Homo sapiens: one gene and its partners. The protein of the gene in region 2 purifies or fractionates together with the protein of the main gene of each other region. This does not show direct contact. Each region holds a gene or a part of one and is shown on either strand. Other genes may lie near its edges.

Region 1 (3,651 bases), on a different chromosome or scaffold from region 2:
TGCCGGTACCATTGAGGCCACCCAGGAACGGGCACTCACCCTGCATCTTGCACGGTACACAGCCCTGCACCAGGGGCAGTGCTCACCCTGCACCATCCTGACCCCGGGGTGGCGCTCACCCTGCACCCCGCACAGCCCTGCACCAGAGGTGGCGCTCACCCTGCACCCTGCACCAGAGGTGGCGCTCACCCTGCACCCTGCACCAGAGGTGGCGCTCACCCTGCCCCCTGCACCAGAGGTGGCGCTCACCCTGCACCCTGACCCAGGGGCGGTGCTCATCATGCACCCTGACCCAGGGACGACGCTCATCCTGCACATGGACTGAGGGGTGGGTTCACCCTGCACCATCCTGATCCAGGAACAGTGTTCATCCTGCACCCTGACCCAGGGGTGGGCTCACCCTGCACCCTCACCCAGGAATGGTGCTCACCCTGTACCACCCTGACCCAGGAACGGCGCTCACCCTGCACCCTGACCCAGGGGTGGGCTCACCCTGCACCACCCTGACCCAGGAACAGTGCTCACCCTGCACAGCGCTACACCAAGGGCAGTGCTCACCTTGGCACTGTGAGCAGAGACAGTGGTAGTGACGTACGGGGTCCTGTTCTTTTGAAGCAGGTCAATGTAGACCTCAGCCCCATCTCCTCCGTGGACACGCAGCAGGCTAAGCAGTTCATTGACGTCATGGTGAATCCGAAATTCACTCATAGTTTTAGCTCTGAGGCACGAACATCACAATATGTTCTCCTATAGGTAAGAAGACAGCTATTCATAAAATTCAAACTGTAGAAATAAAAAACATTTTTTTAAACACTCAAGACTGGCCAATGTCAGGCTTTGACAAACCAAGTTATCACCTGGCCTGCCTGGCCTAGGGCCCCTCCCCCAACAGCCCAGCAGCCTCTCAGAGGGTCCTCTGCATGGGCCTGGGATTAGGGCCCCTGCCCAACACCCCAGCAGCCTCTCAGAGGGTCCTCTGGACGGGACTGGGATTAGGGCCCCTCCCTGAACTCCAGCAGCCTCTCAGAGGGTCCTCTGCATGGGCCTGGGATTAGGGCCCCTCCCCGACACCCCAGCAGCCTCTCAGAGGGTCCTCTGGGTGGGCCTGGGATTCACCTGCCTCCAGCTTCCAGGCGGCCTCCGCAGCTCCGGGAGCCAGCCCCGTGGGCAGCATGAATGGGGCCTGAGACCCAGGTTCCCTTTCCCCTGCACCTCCCTCCACACATGGGTCTGGGCCAGCAGGGAATGCTCTGCTGCTCGCCTCGGCTTGGGGACAGAGCTTTCTGGTCCCAGACGTGAGGCCTGTGGGGTCTACACAGGGAGCTCTGTGCAGGCCCAAGCCATTGACACTGTGCCAGCTACCGGCACACACAGTAACATCCCAGCTTCTACCGGAGAGGCCCACACTGGTTCTCAGAGCCCGCGGTGCTCAGCCGCAGCTCCATTCACTTGGCCGGCTCTGCGTTACTTTTTCACTCTGGTACCCGTGACATCTCCTTTTCTTGCCCAAGCGTGGCTACCGACAGAGACGCTTCTGGTAGGACTTCTACACGTTCCCTACACGTTTGAGCTAGGTGAAGTTCCACTGCAGCTCCAGCTGCCCCAGGGGCTCACCAGGAGACATATAACACATATGAGATCGAAGGCGTCACAGACACCCAAGTGGGCAGCAGAACACTGCGTGGGGTCAGGGTGTAGGGTGAGCCCACCCCTGGGTCAGGGGGCAGGGTGAGCGCCGCCCCTACTCTCCCACCAGTGGCTGCTCATTAGCCTCTGTCACCAAGAGTTCCGATACAAGGCCATTAAGACAAACACATGGCTGTGTGCAGTGGCTCTCGCCTGGAATCCCAGCATTTTGGGAGGCTGAGTCAGGTGAGTCACTCGAGGCCAGGAGTCAAGACAGCCTGGGCAACACAGTGAGACTCTGTCTCTACAAAAAATACAAAAATTAACTGGGCATGGTAGCATATGCCTGTAGTCTTAGCTACTCGGGAGGCTGAGGTGGGAGGATCGCTTGAGCCACTCCAGCCTGGGCGACAGAGGGAGACCCTGTCTCAACAAAAAACAAAACAAAACAAAAAACACAGGCAAGGCAACTGGCTATAGATTACAAAACAAATATAAGCAAACTTTACATGCTTCACAAACATTTCATCTACACAAGGGTTCTTAAGCCGGTATCCATGAGTAATCAGTAACAGATGAGCCCTTGAAAGTTATGGGCAAAATAACTTTTTATTTTCTGAGGAGATGACCCTTCAACAAATTCTCAAAGGCTCTATGACCCAAAAAAGGTAAACAACCACTCTGCTGACAGCTTCAGGGAGACAAGGATGAGCTCAACAAAACATCGAGTGTGGGCGGCAAGCCACCCAGGTGCCGAGGCAAGAGACCGAGGGCACGAGCTGTTCCAGTGTAACAAAATATATAAAACAACAAGAGTTATGCTAGATCTAGATCATAGATATGATTATATATGAATATCATTAATCATCAGTTTGTAGCAATTACTCTTTATTCCAATATTATAATAATCCTTGCTCTACAATCATAACCTAGGAAAAACCAGGCCATACAGAGATAGGAGCTGAGGGGACATAGTGAGAAGTGACCAGAAGACAAGAATGTGAGCCTTCTGTCATGCCCGGACAGGGCCACCAGAGGGCTCCTTGGTCTAGCGGTGATGCCAGCGTCTGGGAAGATGCCCCTTGCCAAGCGGACCTTGGTCTAGCGGTAGTGTCAGTGTCAAGGAAAAACACCCGCTACTTAGCAGACCGGGAAAGGGAGTCTCCCTTTCCCCGGAGAGTTTAGAGAAGACTCTACGCCTCCAACTCTTGTGGAGGGCCTGACATCAGTCAGGCCCGCCCGCAGTTATCCGGAGGCCTGACTGTCTCCCTGTGATGCTGTGCTTCAGCGGTCACACTCCTGGTCTGCTCTCATGTTCCATCCCGTACACCTGGCTCCGCCCTCTAGATAGCAGTAGCAAAATTAGTGAAAGTATTAAAGTCTTTGATCTTTCTGAAAAGAACATAGAAGAAATAATGACATAAGCTGTCCTCTCTCTCTCCGCCTCGGCTACGTAACAGGGAAGGGCCCCATGTCTGGTGGACACATGACACACATGACCTTATCAATCATTGGAGATGACTCACACTCTTTACCCTGCCCCTTTTGCTTTGTATCCAATAAATAACAGCGCAGCCAGGCATTCGGGGCCACTACCGGTCTCTGCGTCTTGGTGGTAGTGGTTCCCCGGGCCCGCTGTCTTTTCTTTTATCTCTTTGTCTTGCGTCTTTATTTTTACAATCTCTCATCTCCGCACACGAGGAGAAAAACCCACCGACCCTGTGGGGCTGGTCCCTACAATAGAGTACAGAAGACTCAGCACATACTCCCACAATATGCTAATTCACTAACGATTATTAGCACGGGACTCGACACCGAGATTCTAATCCTGTGTGATGGAAGACAGTTTATCTGTAGATGAACATCAAATACTGGTCACAGGCAGGGTATCTCCGAAAATGGAAGGAGAGCGATAAGAAGGCATGGTGCTGAGTTGCTCACACACATGCTTTTGACCCAGGAGGTGCTCACGGTAACTACAGTTCAAGCACAAGGCCAGCAGGGCACGCGCCATGGAGCCCCATG
Region 2 (3,550 bases):
TTAAAACACTTCCAATGTTCACCGGCTGCCCCCTTCTACCTTTGTCCAAAGCCCATATTTGACCCCCGGTTAAACATTTTACAGTCATATCCCAGGCCACAAAGGCAGGTTTCGTGCAAACAAAACTGACCTTCCTCCCCCCTACTCTCCGCACTGTTAATTCTTTCCCACCCGCTGGGACCAACACCTTTTCCTCTGCTCCTGCTCCTTCTTCCACACACTTTGACTCACTGCTCTTTTATTCCTAAACACTCTGGAAAACCTGCAAACACTTGTGATCTCTTGATGTCAGCCCGATCAGGTGCTCTTTTCCTCTCATTTTATATGCCATCTGAGAGCTGCTAGATGGGTCATGGGTTTAAAGGAGTATTTAAAGCAATAGTAACTTAATAGCCAGAGCTCAGCTGACATCCTCCCCCAGGGCTGTGGGGCTGGCTGGGCCTCTACCTTTTGAACAGCAATTGTAGGAAAGATTGAAGGAACATGCTCCAGCCAACACGTGGGAATGTTACTTCACTTCAAGACCTAAAAATAGGCAGGTCTGGCGGGGCGTGGTGGCTCACGCCTGTAATCCCAGCACTTTGGGAGGCCAGGACGAGTGGATCACGAGGTCAGGAGTTTGAGACCAGCCTGACCAACATGGTGAAACCCCGTGTCTACTAAAAATACAAAAATTAGCTGGGCGTGGTGGCGCACGCCTGTAATCCCAGTTACTCAGGAGGCTGAGGCAGGAGAATCACTTGAACCCGGGAAGCAGAGGTTGCGGTGAGCTGAGATTACACCACTGCACTCTAGCCTGGGCAACAGAGTGAGACTCTGTCTCAAAAAGAAAAAAAAAAAAAGGCAGGTTTGTGTTTACCTAGTTCCTCTGTATCCAGACAGCTCATTCGTGCAATTTTGCTGGTAAGTTCGCCATTTTTCCATCAGCAAAATTTAGGGTGGGGACCGATCCACACATCTTCTGTCCTCCCCTAAATAAAGAAAAGGCCCAGAGCATTCTTTGGCATTTTGTCATCTGATAAAACTGTCACATCCAAATTTCATGTCCCCATCACCCCATATAATTCAATTTTGTGCCAATTTGCAGCCGTTCTCCTTGATAGCATCATCCCTTCTCTTTATGTAAAGGTCATTCAATCTAATGCCATCTTAGCAATTATACCAAGTGTGTCTTTGCACTGGATTTGAACAAATCATGAACTCCATTTTATTTTTCTGCTTCACAGAATCCAACAAGATAGAACCATCTCTTCATAGCCTCCAGAAATTTGTTCCTACAGATTACGCCAGCTACACTCAGGAGCATTATCGGTTTGCAGGAAAGGAGATTGTCATCCAGGAATCCATAGAGAGTTACGGAGCGGTGGTGTGGCCAGGGGTGAGAGAACTGTCATATTTGTGATGTCAGGATTTCTGGAGATAACAATTCCGTACTTCAGAGTTGCCTTGGACAATTTGTCAAGTTCCTTCATATCCTGCTTCTCAATTTGAGGTTCAGTTGCTTGCCCCCTGGAGGGTGTTGGTGGAGTGCTTGGGATCAGCAAAAACAGTGTTTCTTTCAGAAACACTGGTTTTGCTTCAAGCTCTGTTTCTCGAAACATTATTTTTATATTAAATAAACTCAGCTATATGAGGAAGTGAATGCAAAACTTGTATAAATTGTTAAGAATAAACCCAGGGATTTAGAGTTTAGATTTTGCAGTGGGCATCTCCGAGCCACGCCCATCGACCCTCAGCCATTCATCTCTCTCTTTTTTTTTTTTTTCTTTTGAGATGGAGTCTCACTCTGTTACCCAGGCTGGAGTGCAGTGACACGATCTTGGCTCACTGCAACCTCCACCTCCTGGGTTCATGCAATTCTCCTGCCTCAGCCTCCCGAGTAGCTGGGACTACAGGTGCGCGCCACCATGCCTGGCTAATTTTTGTATTTTTAGTAGAGATAGGGTTTCACCATATTGGCCAGGCTGGTCTTGAACTCCTGACCTCAAGTGATCTGCCCACCTCGGCCTCCCAAAGTGCTGGGATTACAAGCGTGAACCACCACGCCCGGCCGGCCAGCCATTCATCTCTTTTCCATGGGGGCTGTGTCGGTAGGGATGTTTAGGAAGCATGACTTTGTGGCATGTCACCCCTGCCACAGCCCTGAGAGGATGGCGCTGAAATGGGGGCAGTCCTCTGGATTTTTAGTCAGAAAAGCTGCCATTTCAGGGCTGGGTAGTCACAAATGTTCACCTCACCTCCGTTTGCCTTCATTTCCATATTTAAAACCTAGGGTGGTCGTAATGTCTACAGTGCTCCTGACGTGGTTGTCAGAATTGTGAGAATTAATTTCAGATTGTGAGATTAAATGAAGTCCTAGCGTAAGCTCACATGAACTGTCCTCATTAATGTAATATTCTTTCCACCTTTCAGCTGAGGAAATGGGAACGCAGGCCAGTCTGCTGGCGTGGTAAAGCTCCCGACTGGGGTGCAGGGCAGAGCCAAGATAGACAGTGGCCCTCAGAGCCAGTGTGGTTGCTTTTCCCACTGCGGATGTTGTCAGTGATTAGAAAGGCTCCAGATCAGAAGTTCTCAATCTGCAGTCTTGTTAAAATGCGGATTCTGATTCAGGAGGTCTTACACATTCCGGGGTGATGCCTATCTGCTGGGCCAGGGTGCCCACATTGAGTATTCCTGGTTAGTGGTTCCACGGGGCTCCCTCAGGTCATCTGGCGATGGCACAGGATGGGGAGAAGGGTAGCCAAAGGGCTTCAGGCTCTTAGGTGTCGACCTTCACTCACTCCCAAACAGGGAGCTCTATTTTTACACCTTATGCATATAATTTCCTTCAACTAAAGGCTTTTCTTTGCCTTAAAAACGAGTTTGAAAATCACCAAACTACTCACAGCTTCCTATTGTAACACATTCAGCAAATAGACGACAGCAGTGGTGTAGCGAGAAAGTGGTATAGTAAGAGATCAGAGGCCGGGCATGTGGCTTATGCCTGTAATCCCAGCACTTTCAGAAGCCGAGGCAAGAGGATCGCTTGAGCTCAGGAGTTTGAGACCAGCCTGGGCAACATAGTGAGACCCCATCTCCCTTTTAAAAATAATAATTTTAAAAAAAAGATCAGAAATTGAAAAAAGAATATTTGTCCCCCTGTTTTATTCTGAACAAGGTATCACTCATGCACCAAACACTAGCCTCTCATGAAACCTGCTTCCTGAAAGCTGCACAAGAAGGGCATCTAGAGTGGGAAGGCGCCCTTTTCCTGTGCGACTTCAGGTGCAACTCTGTGAAAAGATCTCTTCAGAGTTTGCTAACAGGACAAGGGGCTGGCGGGGGAATGTTTGCAATGTCAAAAGACACAGCTGTCCCTGAGAAAAGCTTTGTCTCCGCATGACACCCTGCGGCCAGCCCCTCACAGGGCAGGGCACCAGGAAGGACCCCTGCAGCCATCTCCAGGAAGTTCCTCAGAGCTGCCCTCTGAATGGCTCTAGGTGACACTCTTTTCCTGACATTGACCCCCTCCTCCCAGCCCCCACAGCAAATACTTCTCTTCTCTCCTTAA
Region 3 (3,651 bases), on a different chromosome or scaffold from region 2:
TGGGTTCAGTTCTAGCTGTGCTACTTATTGGTATGTGAGCCTAATATCTCCAAATTACAGTTCCTACATTTATAAGATGGGAGATAATGTTTCCCTTCCTGATGGGGAAGGATTATCTACTAAGGCAGGGACAGATAAGTCTATTTTCTGTTTTGTTGACCCACTATATCCCCAGTGCTGGTTGCTGTCATTATTATTATCCTGTGCTATGCTATATCTACCTACTTATGGCTCCTCAAGTAAATCATGATAGTTCACAGCTTAGTTTTTTTGTTTGTTTGTTTGTTTTTGAGACAGGATCTCACTCTGTCACCCAGGCTGGACTGCAGTGGCACAATCGCAACCCACTGCAACCTCAAACTCCTAGGCTGAAGCAATCCTCCCACCTCAGCTTCCCAAGCAGCTGGGACTGCAGGCATGTGCTACTGCACCTGGCTAATTTTTTAAAATTTTTTTTATAGAGACCGGGTCTCACTTTTTTGCCCAGGCTGGTCTTGAATTCCTGGGTTCAAGTGATCCTCCCACCTCAGCTTCCCAAAGTGGCTGGCATTACAGGCATGAGCCACTGCGCCTGGCCGACAGCTTAGTTTTGTATGATCTCTGTTAGTGTCACCTCTATATAGCTGTATGATCTTTAGTAAGTTACTTAATTTGTAAGTGGGATAAAAAGTCACAGGATTGTTATGAGAATCAAATAGAATAATGTATGTACAATGCTTAACATATAGAAAGTGTCCAATAAATGTTAGCTCTTTATTGTTTTATTTATATTATTATCATTAGAATTATTTTCTTCAAGACCAGCGGTCCCCAACCTTTTTGGCAGCAAGGACTGGTTTCATGGAAGACGATTTTTACATGGAGCAAGGCTGAGGGGAGATGGTTTCAGGATGAAACTGTTCTACCTCAGATCATCAGCCATTAGATTCTTATGAGGAGAGTGCAACCTAGATCCCTCGCATCTACAGTTCACAATAGGGTTTGTGGTCCTGTGAGAATCTAATGCTGTTGTTGATCTGACAGGAGGCAGAGCTCAGGCAGTAATGCTTGCCCGCCCACCACTGATCTGCTGTGTGGCTTTCCTAACAAGCCATGGACCCAATCCATGGCCCAGGGGTTAGAGACTCCTGCTCTAGACTATCCTTCCCCTTTTCTTTGACTAACCAATTCCTGCTCTTCCTTTAATACCTTGTGAAGTCCCCAGGCAGAGTTGTTTTCTTCCTTATGATTCGGAAGTACCTTCACCTGCGTAGCTATTGCTTTGCAGTATTACTGTTTAGGGGCTAGATGTTTTGTCTCACATATTACTAGCACCTAACCTAGTACTTAGCATGTATCACTAGCACCTAGCATAGAAGTTGGCATGTCGTAAGTTGTAAGTAAATGTTGAAGGAATAAGTGAAGATAGCTGCAATTTTATTAATTTTCAAAATTTTGAGAATACCTTCTAGTTTTAGTACTGTAGAATTTAGTTTATTTTTTAGTTTGTCTTCTGTTTCTCCTTTTTGTTTGTTCTCTCTCTTTCCCCGTATTTGTTTTAATTACCTTTATTGGATATTTTTCCCACCGATGTTATATCTCCTTTGAGGCAAGGTGATAGGAGCAAGATTTCATGGTCCATGGTTTTTTATAGTATTAGAATATACAGTGCTTTCAGTTTGGTTTCCAATAACTTTCCTGTCCAATATGTTGAGTTTTTTTTTTTTTTTTTTTTTTTTGAGACGGAGTCTTACTCTGTCGTCTAGGCTGGAGTACAGTGGCGTGATCTCGGCTCACTGCAACCTCCTTCTCCCAGGTTCAACCAATTCTCCTGTCTCAGCCTCCTGAGTAGTTGGGATTACAAGGTGCCCACCACCGTGCCTGGTGAAGTTTTGTGTTTTTAGTAGAGACGGGATTTCACCATTTTGGCCAGGCTGGTTTCGAACTCCTGACCTCAAGTGATCTGTCCACCTGAGCCTCCCAAAATCTCATGCTGGGATTACAGGCATGAGCCACCGTGCCTGGGCCATGTTGAGATTTTTTTGTCCACAGCTTTGTATTGGACTGTCTTCAAGAAAAGTCCATTGTGATTGCCTCATTCTCAATATGATTCATATGTAGTTAAACTACAGAAATGATGAGAACCTAGAGAAGAACAGGTGAACTAGTTGTTATACCTGAGAGTATTTTTAAATTTTTTAACTGAAAATTTTCTCTTAATATATATTATGGGAGACTAGTTCTCACAGGATAAATGGAAAGGAAGACCAGTTCTTTCAAAAGGACACCAGCTGACTTTCTTTTAGGATCCATGAAACAGTTTGATACCATTCTAGGCATTAAGTTTTCAATATTCAGAAATAGTATTTGAGATTATACTTGGTACTGGGACATCTGTATAATACTTAATTTATTAATTAGTAAACTGGCTGCTTTTGGAGAGTCAGAGTGGTGGGAGGGCAAAAACAAAAACATGGGCTTGAAAGTTTAAATCCTGAATCAATCATTTAATATTTAGCTAGTTATTGAAACTGGAAAATTACTTTAAATGTTCTCTTTATTCCTGATTCTATTTTTATGCCTTCTTAGATCTATTTTACTAGTTTAATAATTTTTTTTTTTTTTTGAGACAAGGCCTCTCTCTCTTGCCGAGACTGGAATGCAGTGGCGAGATCTTGGTTCACTGCAACCTCTGCCTCCTGGGCTCAAACGATCCTCTCACCTCAGCCTCCTGAGTAGCTAGGACTACTACCATGCCCAGCTAATTTTTCTTTTCTTTTTTTTGTTTTTTGTTTTTTGTAAAGGCAGAGTTTTGCTGTGTTGCCCATTCTGGTTCCAATCTCCTGGGTTCAAGCTATCCACCACCTCAGCCTCCCAAAGTGCAGAGATTAGAGGCGTGAGCCAGTGTGCCTGGCCTACTTTAATAATTAATAAAAATAGGTGGATAAAACCCATCAACTTCACTCTGAGTGAGAGGAGATCTGCCCCTAACATTTGTAAGATCCAGGATAAGCATCCATTTACCACAATAGGCCTAAATATTTAAAGCTTATAAACCAGGCCAACAAATCATTATCTATATTCTAGTCTTTTCTCTTGATAAATATACCTTCATAATGACTTGAAAGTTTCAAATTTAAAATCTGTGGAATTTAGAATTCATAAATTCACAGTTTTGCAGCAGAGTGTGGTTAAGCCCAACCTCCTCCCGTCATCTCTGGCTCTTTCTAGCACCACAAAGAGGTCTCCTGTACATGCTGTGAACACCTTGCATGCACGCACAAGGTCTAAGCTCTTGTACTCCCATCCCCAAACAAGTACTCCTTGGCCCAAGGGTGTACACAAGTGTAGCACAGTCTTTTCTAAGGACAGACCTAGGAAAGAGGCCTGTGTGGGCCTTCAAATTGAGTTAGAAGTGCTTGGGCAAGAAATTGCAAAGTTCTGGGCACCTGGAGTGTCATTTAAAAGTGGGGAGGTAGGCCAGACTTGGGGGCTCACACCTGTAATCCCAGCACTTTGGGAGGCTGAGGCGGGTGGATCACTTGAGGTCAGGAGTTCAAGATCAGCCTGGCCAATATGGTGAAACCCCGTCTCTAATAAAAATACAAAAATTAGCAGGGCATGTTGGCGGGCCCCTGTAATCCCAGCTACTCGGGAGGCTGAGGCAGGAGA

The links.
Region 1: the proteins of METTL21C (region 2) and TUBGCP2 purify together in Homo sapiens (affinity purification with mass spectrometry, with the first as the bait; one study listed by BioGRID). This does not show direct contact.
Region 3: the proteins of METTL21C (region 2) and CCDC88A purify together in Homo sapiens (affinity purification with mass spectrometry, with the first as the bait; one study listed by BioGRID). This does not show direct contact.

The regions. Positions count from the first base shown.
Region 1 is NC_000010.11:133,302,234-133,305,884, forward strand, and holds part of TUBGCP2 (gamma-tubulin complex component 2), read right to left. Parts: intron 748-3,651; 5' UTR 709-747; coding exon 559-708; intron 1-558. UniProt on the Homo sapiens protein: Component of the gamma-tubulin ring complex (gTuRC) which mediates microtubule nucleation.
Region 2 is NC_000013.11:102,688,641-102,692,190, reverse strand, and holds part of METTL21C (protein-lysine methyltransferase METTL21C), read left to right. Parts: intron 1-1,226; coding exon 1,227-1,378; intron 1,379-3,550. UniProt on the Homo sapiens protein: Protein-lysine N-methyltransferase using S-adenosyl-L-methionine as methyl donor. Mono-di and trimethylates 'Lys-943' of AARS1.
Region 3 is NC_000002.12:55,409,847-55,413,497, reverse strand, and holds part of CCDC88A (girdin), read left to right. Parts: intron 1-3,651. UniProt on the Homo sapiens protein: Bifunctional modulator of guanine nucleotide-binding proteins (G proteins). Acts as a non-receptor guanine nucleotide exchange factor which binds to and activates guanine nucleotide-binding protein G(i) alpha subunits.